3 separate regions of the Homo sapiens genome follow, and all the other regions are reported to be linked to region 3. Evidence: microRNA targets listed by miRTarBase, many of them from high-throughput screens and not tested one by one. Region 3 holds a microRNA gene; each other region holds the end of a gene's coding sequence.

Evidence for each region. Region 3 holds the annotated microRNA hsa-miR-488-3p (UUGAAAGGCUAUUUCUUGGUC, at 2,188-2,208, shown strand). A microRNA usually pairs through its seed, bases 2 to 8, with sites in the 3' UTR of a target mRNA and lowers its output. Matches are read on the target gene's strand: a 7mer-m8 pairs with bases 2 to 8, a 7mer-A1 pairs with bases 2 to 7 and ends in A, and an 8mer does both.
Region 1: miRTarBase lists CIAO1 as a target of hsa-miR-488-3p. Seed matches in the 3' UTR shown: 7mer-m8 at 1,757-1,763 and 7mer-A1 at 2,458-2,464.
Region 2: miRTarBase lists RAB6A as a target of hsa-miR-488-3p. Seed matches in the 3' UTR shown: 7mer-A1 at 1,876-1,882.

Annotation. Positions count from the first base shown.
Region 1 is chr2:96,270,641-96,274,640 of GRCh38, forward strand. It overlaps CIAO1 (cytosolic iron-sulfur assembly component 1), which reads left to right. Exons shown (of 7, transcript NM_004804.3): 7 at 471-3,533. The coding sequence ends at 711. SNRNP200 (small nuclear ribonucleoprotein U5 subunit 200) reads right to left here. Exons shown (of 45, transcript NM_014014.5): 45 at 3,698-4,000. Among named protein-coding and RNA genes, the nearest start is that of CIAO1, 6.4 kb to the left of the region's middle.
Region 2 is chr11:73,674,596-73,678,595 of GRCh38, forward strand. It overlaps RAB6A (RAB6A, member RAS oncogene family), which reads right to left. Exons shown (of 8, transcript NM_198896.2): 8 at 1,043-3,367. The coding sequence ends at 3,303. Among named protein-coding and RNA genes, the nearest start is that of PLEKHB1, 30 kb to the left of the region's middle.
Region 3 is chr1:177,027,194-177,031,581 of GRCh38, reverse strand. It overlaps MIR488 (microRNA 488), which reads left to right and starts at 2,137; the gene lies at 2,137-2,219. It overlaps ASTN1 (astrotactin 1), which reads left to right. Exons shown (of 23, transcript NM_004319.3): 4 at 630-776; 5 at 1,841-1,948.

The sequences.
Region 1 (4,000 bases), not on the chromosome of region 3:
CTCTACTGAAAATACAAAAATTAGCCGGGCATGGTGGCACATGCCTGTAGTCCCAGCTACTCAGGAGGCTGAGGCAGGAGAATCGCTTGAACCTGGGAGGGGGAGGTTGCAGTCAGCCAAGATTGTGCCACTGCACTCCAGCCTGGGCGACACAGCAAGACTCCATCTCAAAAAAAAAAAAAAAAAAACAACTTTATGACATGGGAAACTGCTTATGCCAAGTGAGGAAAGTGCAGTTCATAATTGCATGTCGTTTTTTAGGATAATCATAGTAGGGGAAAGAACTAGATTGCAGCATCTGAAGATATAAGTGGGTGATATTTGTGACTCCTTATTAGTTAAGGAAACATTTTAATAAGAGGTTTTTAGCTGAGGCCTGAAGTTAGGGAAGAGAACAGGCCAGGAACTATGGAACAGGTCTCTCTGGCCTAATTAGTCAGGTATACCCACTGATGTCACTTTCCTTCCAGGTGTCAGCTGACAGGGGCTCTGGCCACAGCTTGTGGGGATGACGCGATCCGCGTGTTTCAGGAGGATCCCAACTCGGATCCACAGCAGCCCACCTTCTCCCTGACAGCCCACTTGCATCAGGCCCATTCCCAGGATGTCAACTGTGTGGCCTGGAACCCCAAGGAGCCAGGGCTACTGGCCTCCTGCAGTGATGATGGGGAGGTGGCCTTCTGGAAGTATCAGCGGCCTGAAGGCCTCTGAGCTACCTCGACTTTGGACAGAGTAATGACTCCCCAGAAAACGTCATATAAGACTTTACCAGCCCCTGAGAGGACCAGGAGGAGCATCCTTGACCTTCATTTAACTTGGCTCACTTCTCTTCAGACTTGGGTAGAAGTGCAGAGCCACAGAATTGCTTTCCTTCCCCGCCTTTGACATGAGGCCTTCAGTAAAGAGCTACAGAACATGAGTACATTGTTATACCACAGATTTTTCTTGCATTAGGGCACAGTGTTAAATTTTTTGGAGGTAAATATACTATTTATAATCACTATATATAGTAGGAGGGGGTATGTGTCTCAGGCTTTTCTGAAGTTGCAAGACTTAAAGAAATAATCCATCTGCATCCCAAGTCCTATTTTATAAGGATATTCATAAAAATTCCATGGTGAATCCTTGTCTGAAATAGGTCCTCCCTTCCCAGTTTCTGTGTAAGTCTTTGCATTTAAGACATCCAATCAATAATGAAGGAAATTTTTTTCTGAATGTAGGTTTGAGTGAGGGGCACCTCTGCTTTCCCTTAGCAACCCTCATATACCTCCCTGCACCGTTACGCTGTGATGGCAACTGGGGATAGAAAAAAAATGGGGAAAGACAGGAATCCTAAAAGGGAGAGTTATTACTGGCCACAAGCCCTGTATTCTCAACAGGGATGCAAATTGGTTCTTCAGTAAGGATAAAAAAAAATCACAAGCAGTTGTTTGTGGCCCTCCTAAGGCCCACAGCACATATAGTGTGTCTGTGATATTCCATTTTCATGGCAGGGAGTGATCAGGAAGAAGGCTTCCTAGGGGACTGGCGATTTAAACCAGTTGAGAAACACTGCCATCAGCAGGCAGTTTCAGACTCACTCAAGTTGTCTCTTGACAGTCACTTCTAAATGGGTTCTAATGTGACAATGGCCTCCAAAACTACAGCCTTCCCTGAAGTTTAAGCTGTGACCTTAGATTTTAGAAGGACAGTGGGGCTGTACCTAGAATAGTGGTTCTCGAAGAATGCGGCCTGCAGATCCTGGGAGTCCCAAGACCCTTTCAGGGAGGATCTGTGAGGTCAACTGTTGGCACTGTGGCATGAATCAAGGTGGTGGCAGCAAACTTCTAGTAGTTTTGATATGTCCTTGATAGAACAAATAGCAATGGTTAACTATTAAATGTTGACCTAGCCAGCGCAGTGGCTCATGCCTGTAATCCCAGCACTTTGGGAGGCTGAGGCGGGCGGATCACCTGAGGTCGGGAGTTCGAGGCCAGCCTGACCAACATGGAGAAACCCCGTCTCTTCTAAAAATACAAAATTAGCTGGGCATGGTGGTGCATGCCTGTAATTCCAGCTACTCGGGAGGCTGAGGCAAGAGAATCGCTTGAATCCGGTAGGTGGAGGTTGCAGTGAGCCGAGATCATACCATTGCACTCCAGCCCAGGCAACAAGAGTGAAACCCTGTCTCAAAAAGAAAAAAAAAGTTGACCTTGAGAATTTATAATATTCTGAGAAAACTGGAAGCATGCATAAAGCCCCTCTGCTGTGCACTGAAGTATGGGTGCCTTGAGGAAAAGCAGTTACACAGTTGAGTTGCAAGCTGAATTGGCTGTGTTCAAGGCATGCCCTTTAGAATTGAAAGAACTAGCAGATTACGGTATTTAGACTTGAATATTTGGCTGATATTTTCTGGAAATTAATGGAATGAGCCTCTCACCTCAAGGGAAACAACTGATAGTGTTGCCAGTGATAAAGCTTTCAAGCAAAAATTGGAATTTCCGAAAATCTGTACTCCACCATGAGCTTTATTGTTGGGGATATTAACAAATGTGATTTGTATAATGAAATGCATTTCATTTGGAAGAATTCAATGAACCATTTTTCCAAGTGACCAGTACGTGATGTTACAAAATCATGCATGGCTCAAAGATTGATTCAAAAGTGTAAGACAGGCCAGTGGATTTTAATGTATTAACAATATAAGAGTGCATTAAGTTTTCGGAGTCTACATTGCCTTTAAGAAACTATGACTTGTAGTAAGCCGGGCGCGGTGGCTCACGCCTGTAATCCCAACACTTTGGGAGGCCAAGGTGGGTGGATCACAAGGTCAGGAGTTCAAGACCAGCCTGGCCAATATGGTGAAAGTCCGTCTCTACTAAAATTACAAAAATTAGCCGGGCGTGGTGGCAGATCCCTTGTAGTCCCAGCTACTCGGGAGGCTGAGGCAGGAGAATAGCTTGAACCCGGGAGGTGGAGGTTGCAGTGAGTCGAGATCGTGCCACTGGACTCCAGCCTGGGTGACAGAGCGAGACTCCATTTCAAAAAAAAAAAAAAAAAAAAAAAATCACTTGTAGTCTTGGTGTGGTATCAAAGAATAGCCACAATTAGCTGAAAAGGCTATTTTAAAAACTTTTCCAACTGCGTATCTGTGTGAAGTCAACTTACTTCAACAAAAAAGTTTGGATGTAGAAGCAGCTGTAAGAATTCAACTGTTTATTATAACAAGATACTAAAGAGACTGTAAAATGCCACCCTTCTCCTTGGATTGTTTTGGAAGTTATTCTTCATAAAAAATGTTAACGTGGGCTGGGCATGGTGGCTCATGCCTGTAATCCCAGCACTCTGGGAGGCTGAGGTGGGCGGATCACTTGAGCTCAGGAATTCAAGGTCAGCCTGGGCAACATGGCTAAACTCTGTCTCTATTAAGAAAAAAAATGTTAACATTATGATTTAAAAGTGCATTAACCTTAATCTAGATAATAAAAGCTTTTTGGGGCAACCTCCAGAACTGTGAAAAATAAATTTGTTATTTAAAAAGAAAAAAAAAAAAACAAAAACCTGAGTTTCTTAGTTTTTAGTAGTGTAAAGAGGTCCTAAGACCAAATCATTTGAAAACTGCTACCCTGAGGAAACTGCCCTTCAGAATCATCTTTCAATTTTGTGTGCATTTAATCTAAAGAACAGAAGGTAAGAATTTGAAGACAGTCGGAAGATCTGGATTAGAAAACCTGTTTATTAAGACTGGGTCACATCCAGCTAGTACATTTCAGTGCCCTTTCTGGTGCTGCCTCCCAGGAGCAGACACTGCAAATTTCAGAACCCCCATCTAGAGAAACCCCTAACCTGTGATCTAGCTTCCGAGGCTCAGTGTTGGTTCTTGTGGTAGTGCTGATGTGTGGGTACCACTGAGGCCAGGCCACAGTCGCATGTACCCTCCTCTGGGCTGACTCACGAGGCTACAGGGGACAGCACACCTAATGAGCAGGTCTGTCCTCCAGACATACTCATTAACAAGCAC
Region 2 (4,000 bases), not on the chromosome of region 3:
CCACGTCGGCCTCCCAAAGTGCTAGGATTACAGGCATGAAACACTGCACCTGGCTGTGTTCCTCATTTCAACAATTAAAAACTTTTCACACTTAATTTATGATTCCAAATTGTTTCATATCTTATCTCCTTAATATTTATCATGTCATCCTTAAATTATTCGTTCTTTCCCAAAGTATTTCTGCTTTAGATATTTACTTTTACTTTTGAGGCAGTTTTTAGGTATTCAACTATATTGCTGTGTGAGTTCAAATTCCCCTCAGGGTATAGGCTACTAGTCTGGAAGGCACAAGGGACAAGACTGTCAAGGAGAGGAGGGGACAAACTTTGGGGCAAAGAGTTCTAGGAACTATAAGCCCACATGTAATCACTCCCATTCAGTATCAGTATCATCCCCCAAAGCCACAACTTATTTCAGGGCCTTGCCTTTATTTCCATCGGCTTATTAGTGCTTTTGTACTGCCTTAATATTACTCTTGCAGACACCTGCACTAGTATTCTGGCCTGTGGCCTTCATTTTACAGTAAGGGGTTCAGCTATGGTTGTCCCAAGGCAGGGGTTGCCCTTTTCTCTGTAAAGGGCCAGATAGTAAACAGTTTTTTGGGTTTTAGGGCCATAAGGTCTGTGGCAGCTATTAAGCTCTGCCATTATAGTGGGAAAGTATGGCTGAGTTCCAATAAAACTTAATTTTTAAAACTGGTTCCAGGCTGCATTTGGTGGGAGGGCCACAGTTTGCTGGCTCCTGTCCCAAGGCAAAGGTATAGTTAGGAGTGAGGACGCAAAAGCAGAACTTAAGATGCTTTTCTTAATATGTCCTATTACTGCCTCCACCAGGGGATGTATCTTTCAAGTTGCAGCCCCTCTCCCCCACCCCCCAACAATACCCCCATCAAAAAAAGAGTCTTTGACTCCCTAGGAGTTCCTCACATTTGTTGTTGTTATTTTTCTGGATTCTGTCCATGTCTGCTTTAAAGGTCTTCCCAGAGAGGGAGAAGTAAATGCTAATTCACCATCTTGGCAGGAATGGGAAACCAGGTCAATAATTGTTTTCTTTCGTGTTTTATTTATATATTTTTGGCAGCAAAATTGTGTTTATTAAAAAAAAAACCTGGACTATGAACACACTTCAATGCTTTGAAGAACTCCAAGCCAAATAAAAAGACCAATCAATATTAAAAGCAGTATAACTGGTTACTTTCTTAAAAATACATAAAAAGAATCAAATGCAACAGTGTAGGAAGACAATCACACCCATGTCAGAAGTCACAACTTCTTCCAAATAAAGAATATGACCCATCTGCCATATTGAATCAATATTTATTTCAGGACATGCCATGTCAAAATAAAACAAAGAGTCAACCCTTGCCTTTAACAATTATATTGTATTATAAAAGCACTTTACAACTCCATCCCATCTTTAAGTATAAGTTACTGGTATGTGGGCTAATGATTATCTGTAAGCATTTCTCTATTCAGATCCATAATCCAAGTGCTCTCTGAATATTACAAGGTGACAATAAGTGGGAAGTGGAGGAGGAAGAGGAAAGAGAGGGGACTAAGGTTCTCCCAGTTTAAGGTTTTGTTCCAATGAGGGGATGAGGAAGTATGAAGATATTTTTGTTGTCTTTTCATCTTTATACTGTGTTAAGTAATGCTTACAACATAAATTCAGCAGGCTTTTCCTGAGCTGTAACTCAGAAGTTTTCGTCCTGCAAACAATGTATTTACAAATGTGTTTATTAGCTTACACAGCAATCTCACAATAACTAGTAAAGATTAAAAGGGCACACTCCTAGTATATTTGTTTGCAGTGTTTTAAGGGAAATACATATTGCCATGGTGAAGCTCTAAATAGATTCAACGAAACATCTGAAGATTGAAAGTTGTTAAAAAAAAAAAAGGCAAAGAAATAAATATCACCAAAGAAAAAAGATTAATTGTAGCTTAAATATAAAACTAAATCACCAGTTAATTAAACTATACAGATCTAATACAAACCAAAACCAGCCTGAAAGACCCAACCTTAAAAAATGCTAAAAAATAAGGCATAAATCTGCATAATATTGAGTTTTATTTCCATTCTCTCCTTTCCCTCTACTATGTATGCTTTACCTGATCTGCCTCTAGGGGCTTACAAGAAAACGGTTTCCGGTTTCCGTCTTCAATTTGACCTCAAATGTCCTGAGCAAAGTTTTTGTTATTCTGCTGAGGGTTCTTTTGTTGGTAAGCTTTAGACATCATTATTTCTACTAATTCAGTAGTTTTGATCGTAGCGCCAAATTTAAATTCTTCCACTGGTTCTTCTGGAAGGAATTAAAACTTTTACAGTGCCTTGCCTGCACAGTATTATGTTTTTAAAAAAGAAAACCCAAGCAAAATCTATTGCTTAAAGAGGTTTCTTATTTTTTAAACAAACAGAATAACTCTTGACAATTTTAAAACCTTGGGAGAAACAGTTCATTAGAACTTCATTTTCTTACCGTGAAGAATTAAATACTAAAAACCTGTTCTGAAGCACTTGGTTAATTTTCTCTCCCAGAGTCTAATAAAGCACATGTGAAAGAGCCATTTGTTTTAGTCAGAAATACATCTTATGTTCTTCTACTTCTAAGTACTCAGTATGTTCTTTAGGACTCATTTTGAAGATGCACCAGGAGCCTTTTCTCATTCAAGCACTGCCTACCATGATGGCTGAATTTTGACCTCAAAGAAGACCGTAATTTATATCAGTGCTCAAGAATAATTTTGGACATCTTGGTCCGTAGCCTACAGCAAGTGGTATCTGTAAAATTAAAGGATAATTCCAATGGGCTTGGTAGAACTGCTGCTTTGCCATCTCTTGTTTGTTTTGAGGAAGTCGGGGGAGGCTAGGTAAGAATAGGGTAATAGGGAATGGGGGTAAGTGAGAGGTGAGAAAAGCAAGGAGAGATAAAGTAGGCTGTGAACATACCGCTCGTTAACCAAGCCATACTCATACTGTTGAGATTTCCATCATTTTGAAGTACATTATCATAACATTAAAAAAGAAAAAAATGTTAAGAAAATGTATCTAATTTTTAAAGTTATCACTGGAATATGCTGAAATATTTTGGCTTTTTGTAAAATATAAATAATGAAGACACTGACTTTTGTTGTGCTTGTGAAGCTAATAGATCATCTCCACGAGACAGGCAGCAATGATGAATTGCAATACGTTATTACTGAAGGGAAAAGGTTCAAGCCAATATTCACACTGCAGTCAATGAAAGAGTAAGGGGGCCAAAGCAGTGAGCTTCTGAAGAAGGTTGAAGATGACATGGGAGATTAGCAGGAACAGCCTCCTTCACTGACTGGTTGCTCCTGAGGCTTTTCCAGTTTTATGTCAATCACTGAAACAAAAGTTAAGAAGCCATAAATGGGAAAGTACAATTTCAATTCTTCCAAACACTAGCATTTCTGGGATGGCCCTTATATTCCTATCTGTCTTCAGAGCCTACACACTCACTATTTTCTACATAGCCGCCTCACCATATAAGGTGCTCAAATGGAATAAACTTGTTTATATCTACTATATGCAACAAGGGTCAGAATGAGGTACAAGCTCTATTTATGGGTATCTATCCTAAGGAACTTATTCTACAGTGGCAAGAAGTGATATGAAGATGATGTTCCTCATAGAATCATCTATAATATAAATCTGAAAATAGCCTACAAGATAGTTCCAACAGCAGAGGAAACATTTAGTAAATAATGGGACTTCAGGCCGGGTGCCGTGGCTCATGCCTGTAATCCCAACACTTTGGGAGGTTGAGGCAGGCCGAACACCTGAGGTCAGGAGTTCAAGACCAGCCTGGCCAACATGGCGAAACCCCATCTCTACTAAAAATATAAAAATTAGCTGGGCATGGTGGCTCATGCCTGTATTCCCAGCTACTTGGGAGGCTGAGGCAGGAGAATCACTTGAATTCAGGAGGCAGAGGTTGTGGTGAGCTGAGATTGCGCTGCTGCACTCCAGCCTGGGC
Region 3 (4,388 bases):
AGAGCCAATTTCTAATGAGATTTAAAGCCTGAAAATTCCTTGAGAATATGGGGGACATATCATCAACATCTCTTCATATTGACCATAACACCTGGTGTAGTGCTAAGCCCACAAAGTAGACATATGGTACTCAGGGGTTATTATCAACTCAAATGCCTTTAGGAGGCCAACAGATAACACAGATATTTGAAGCAGAGAAGAGGTCAGACAATACAGAATGGCGCAGACTGTGATGAAAGAGAAGGGGCATGTTCTGCCTGAATGCACACAAATTCAAATTCTTTTAAAACTCTGTGCTGACCAAAAATAAAGAAATCTGCAGTCTGTATTTAGCCAAAGGGTTACAAGTGCTGACCTTATCAATACAGAATATTATAATACATAATATAATAATAGTTGAATTGGATTTTCAGTTGTAGTTCCCTGACTTCACTGCTTCTCCCATAACTTTGCAGTCCCTCAGAAATAAAAAAGGAGTATTTCAGTTTCTTGCAGCCAGTCTCTCAGTTTGCTGGTGTCTTATTTCAATTCTGTGAGACCTTATCTTCTTGGTTTATGCAGATTTCCTTCTTCTCCCTTTCTTTTGGTCTTTTCTCTTAAAGTTTTTGCCTCGTCTTTTCCTTATACAGGAAGTGACAATGCCAAGCTGTCACTGATGAACAAGTATAAAGATAATATTATAGCCACTAGCCCTGTGGACTCCAACCACCAGCAAGCCACCCTTCTCTCTCACACCTCCAGCAGCCAGAGAAAGCGGATCAACAACAAAGCAAGAGGTATGCATGTCTGACATTAGGGCTCGTGGGTGGATTCCTTCATATTGGTAGAGGCAGGGCCATTAATATCTTCTACCCATTCTCTCATGCGTGGCTGGAGAGGGTATGCCCTGGCACAGCCTTTCTGGAGGCCAGTTAAATGCTACTTACCAAAAAAATGTAAATGTGCAAACCTTTTGACCAAGTAATTTCACCAACAAGAGTCTATTCTTAGGAAATAATTGGACAAGTGTGCAAAGAAGTGTGTAAAAGGCCGTTCATCACAGCATTGTTTAAACAAGTGAAAAATTGGAAATAGCTTAAATGTCCATCAACAGGGAATTGGTTAACTACCTAGCACATCTGTCTGCTGTCCAGCACTTACCATGCAGCCATTTGAAACAATATAGATCTATATTTGTTAATATGGAAAGTTGCCCACCCATCTATTAAATGGGAAAAAAAATGAAGTTATAAAATAGAAGATACAGCATAATGTCATTTTTAAAGAGAGATTAAAAAACCTTTACCTGTTTCTGTGTCAGTAAAAGCCAGAGAGTATACACATGAAATGTTAGCAGAGTTTATCTCTGATTTAAAGGATTTAGAGGGCATTAGAATTGTTCCCTTTACATAGTTTTGTGCATTTCCTTTATTCTATTCTGTCTTTTTTGTATTAAATATATATAATTCTAGAGCCAGAAAAAACACAAAGATGTAATTTCCTATACCTCTTAGATAGTCTCATATTAACAGAATCATAACCTGTAATGAGGGAAATTTCCCTTTCTTCCTATTCCACCCACTTTCCCTGGAGGTCCTCTCTGGCAGATAGGTGCCAGAAATGGCCCTAGTCAGAGGGAAGTGGGTGGGGCAGGGTAGAGCTCCAGTGATTGCTGTCCCAATGGTCTACTTCTCCAACATATCCGTGTATGAGGAAGCCCCAACCCCCTTGGCTATTTCTCCCAGATTATCAGTCAGCTTACTTTCATTTTTGTTGATTTTCCCATTGAACTTGCCCAAAGGTTTGGTGTCATGAAACCAGAACTGAAAACGCTTTCTTGACCATGCTGCTTTCATTACAGCTGGTTCCGCCTTCTTGAACCCTGAAGGGGATTCTGGCACAGAGGCAGAAAACGACCCCCAGCTGACCTTTTACACGGATCCTTCAAGGAGCAGGAGGCGTAGTAGAGGTAGGAATGATAGAGGTGGCAGAAGGTGGTAAAGGATCTGGGAGTGAGGGAGGCGGGGGAAGGCGAAGAGGTGTTGGGTTGGGTTGTGGGCTCTATGGAACAAAACCAGTTTCTGCAAGAAGAATTTTTGGACCACAACTGGTGTTTCCTCCTAAGGAAGAAAGAAGAGCCTAGAGTGGAAAATTTCAGAGAATCATCTCTCCCAGATAATGGCACTCTCAAACAAGTTTCCAAATTGTTTGAAAGGCTATTTCTTGGTCAGATGACTCTCAATTTCTTCTGGAAGACTCAGGAGTCATATTTTGCTGTTCAGACAAACAAAGTTAATAAAGTGTGTTGTATGTGAAAAGATGGATACTATATGTACCCCTGCTTCCTCTACCACATTGGCCTTGGGTTTGAGCTAGGCAAGGATTGGGGGCAGTGTAGTTGAGGAATGATCTATGGCCTGAAAATCTGTGTAATTGTCTTTGACCTTTAAGCCCCTGCCTGGTAGAATCACAGGACCCCGAGCCTCCCAGTTCCTTCCTTTCCCCTGGCAGGGTTAAGGTGGCTAATCCATTCTCCTCCACGTGGACAGAGCTGTCCTTCCACGCAGCCACTGTGTGCCACTTCACTGTCATGATCAGTGGCTTCAACTGTGGCTATTCCGGCCACAGCTCCCACTGCCTCTGACTTCACTTGTATCACCACCACACCAGCGGAGTTCGGAGCACAAGCGCCGGTCAGCTTTACCAGTTATTTGCTGTGTGGTACTGGATAAGAACAACAAGTTCTCTGACCTTCAGTTTACTCACATGTCAAATGAGTTAACAATACCTTGTGCGTAGAACATAGAGCTTTATCAGGATTAAATTATATTAAAATGTGCCTTTTTGGAGATTGCTAAAGCACTATGAAATCCCTATTGTTGCTGTTAGAACTCTCCATCATGCAGCCCCATATTTATACAGTGCCCCATCTTAAAGAATTTTAGGCAGCGTCCCTGTAAGATACAGTAGAGGATATTTGAGTGGCATCTCCTTGTAATACATTCCATAACAATTTCCTCAACCAATAGTCAACCAGTGTCTCCTGAAAGACATATACATTTTTATTCTCTCGTACCTCCACTTGAATTCCCTTCATAACAGGTGTTCTTCCCAGAGATTTGAAGAAGCCCTTTTGATTATAAATTCCAGTTTCTATAGGCTTAACTACTATCAGTATAATAAAAGTTTTTCCATCATTTTTCTCAAGAGATCATTGTGGCTCTGGGTATTCTAATATTGAATGGCCAGGTTCTGTGAGGCGAGAATGTGGATTAGGGTCTCCCAATCTCCCTTGATACTTATTACAAATTTTAGACAGTGGATACCCAACCTAGGCCCAGCTAATCCAGGCCTAATCAAAGCAGGGTGTGTCCTGCTTTAATAAAGTCTTGTTTCAGAAAAATCCATGGTAATGAATTAGTTTCTCGACAGCATGAAACTGTTCCTTTTAAATACCAAGGTCTCCTAATGCATCAACTTTTTACGCTATTAACCAGACTGTAAGCTTCTTAGGGGTGGGGAATGCCTAATTTATTTTTCCAAAGTGCCTAGTGAAGGATTTTTCCTGTAACAGATGCTTGTAAGTGTTTGTTGAATTGGATTGGATATATCCATCAGTGCAGCAAAAACATTTTATAACCCACCTGCTGTGGGTCAGGTTTGTGATAGGTGGTAGAAACATGAAAATATGGCCCAGTGATAAGGCTTAATTTAATAATATAAATAAAGTGAAGAGAGTACTCAGAAGAGAGGACAGTTAATCCTACCTGAAAGCAATGGGAGGCAAAAAAGGAGAAAGTAATTAGAACTAGGTTTTATATATATGTATATATACACATACACACACACACACACACACACACACACACACACACACACACACACACACTGTACTGGGTTTCTCAAAAGAGGAGAAGAAGTCTAGGATAAGGGCATTTCAGTAAAGGAAAATGGCACATAAAAAGCCTTGAAGGGACAAAAGAACATGGTGTTTTAAAGGAAGTAAAAGTCGTTCAATATGGCAGCTGTCATCAAGTTATAAATATATACGCACACGAGATGGTAAGGATGAGGCTGGAAAATGGCTAACAAAGGACCATGCACATGCCATGTGACTGAGTTTCTGCTTGCCTCAGTGGGGTGTAAGGAACCATTGGAGGTTCTGAAACCAGGTAGAGATGCTGGATTATGGGTCGATGATGCAGAAAGACCATAGAGTCAGGAATATCCGTAGCAAGTCATTGAAATCACATGAGAGCAGTGGCAATTGCCTGTAAACAGTGATGATTCTATGTGATAAGAGCTCTAACAGCTCTTATCACACCTTATAGCACCAAGGGCTAGAACACCAAGGAATCAGTGAGAATCTGTTCTTGGAGGTTTCAGGGAAGTGTTTACAGGGAGATGTT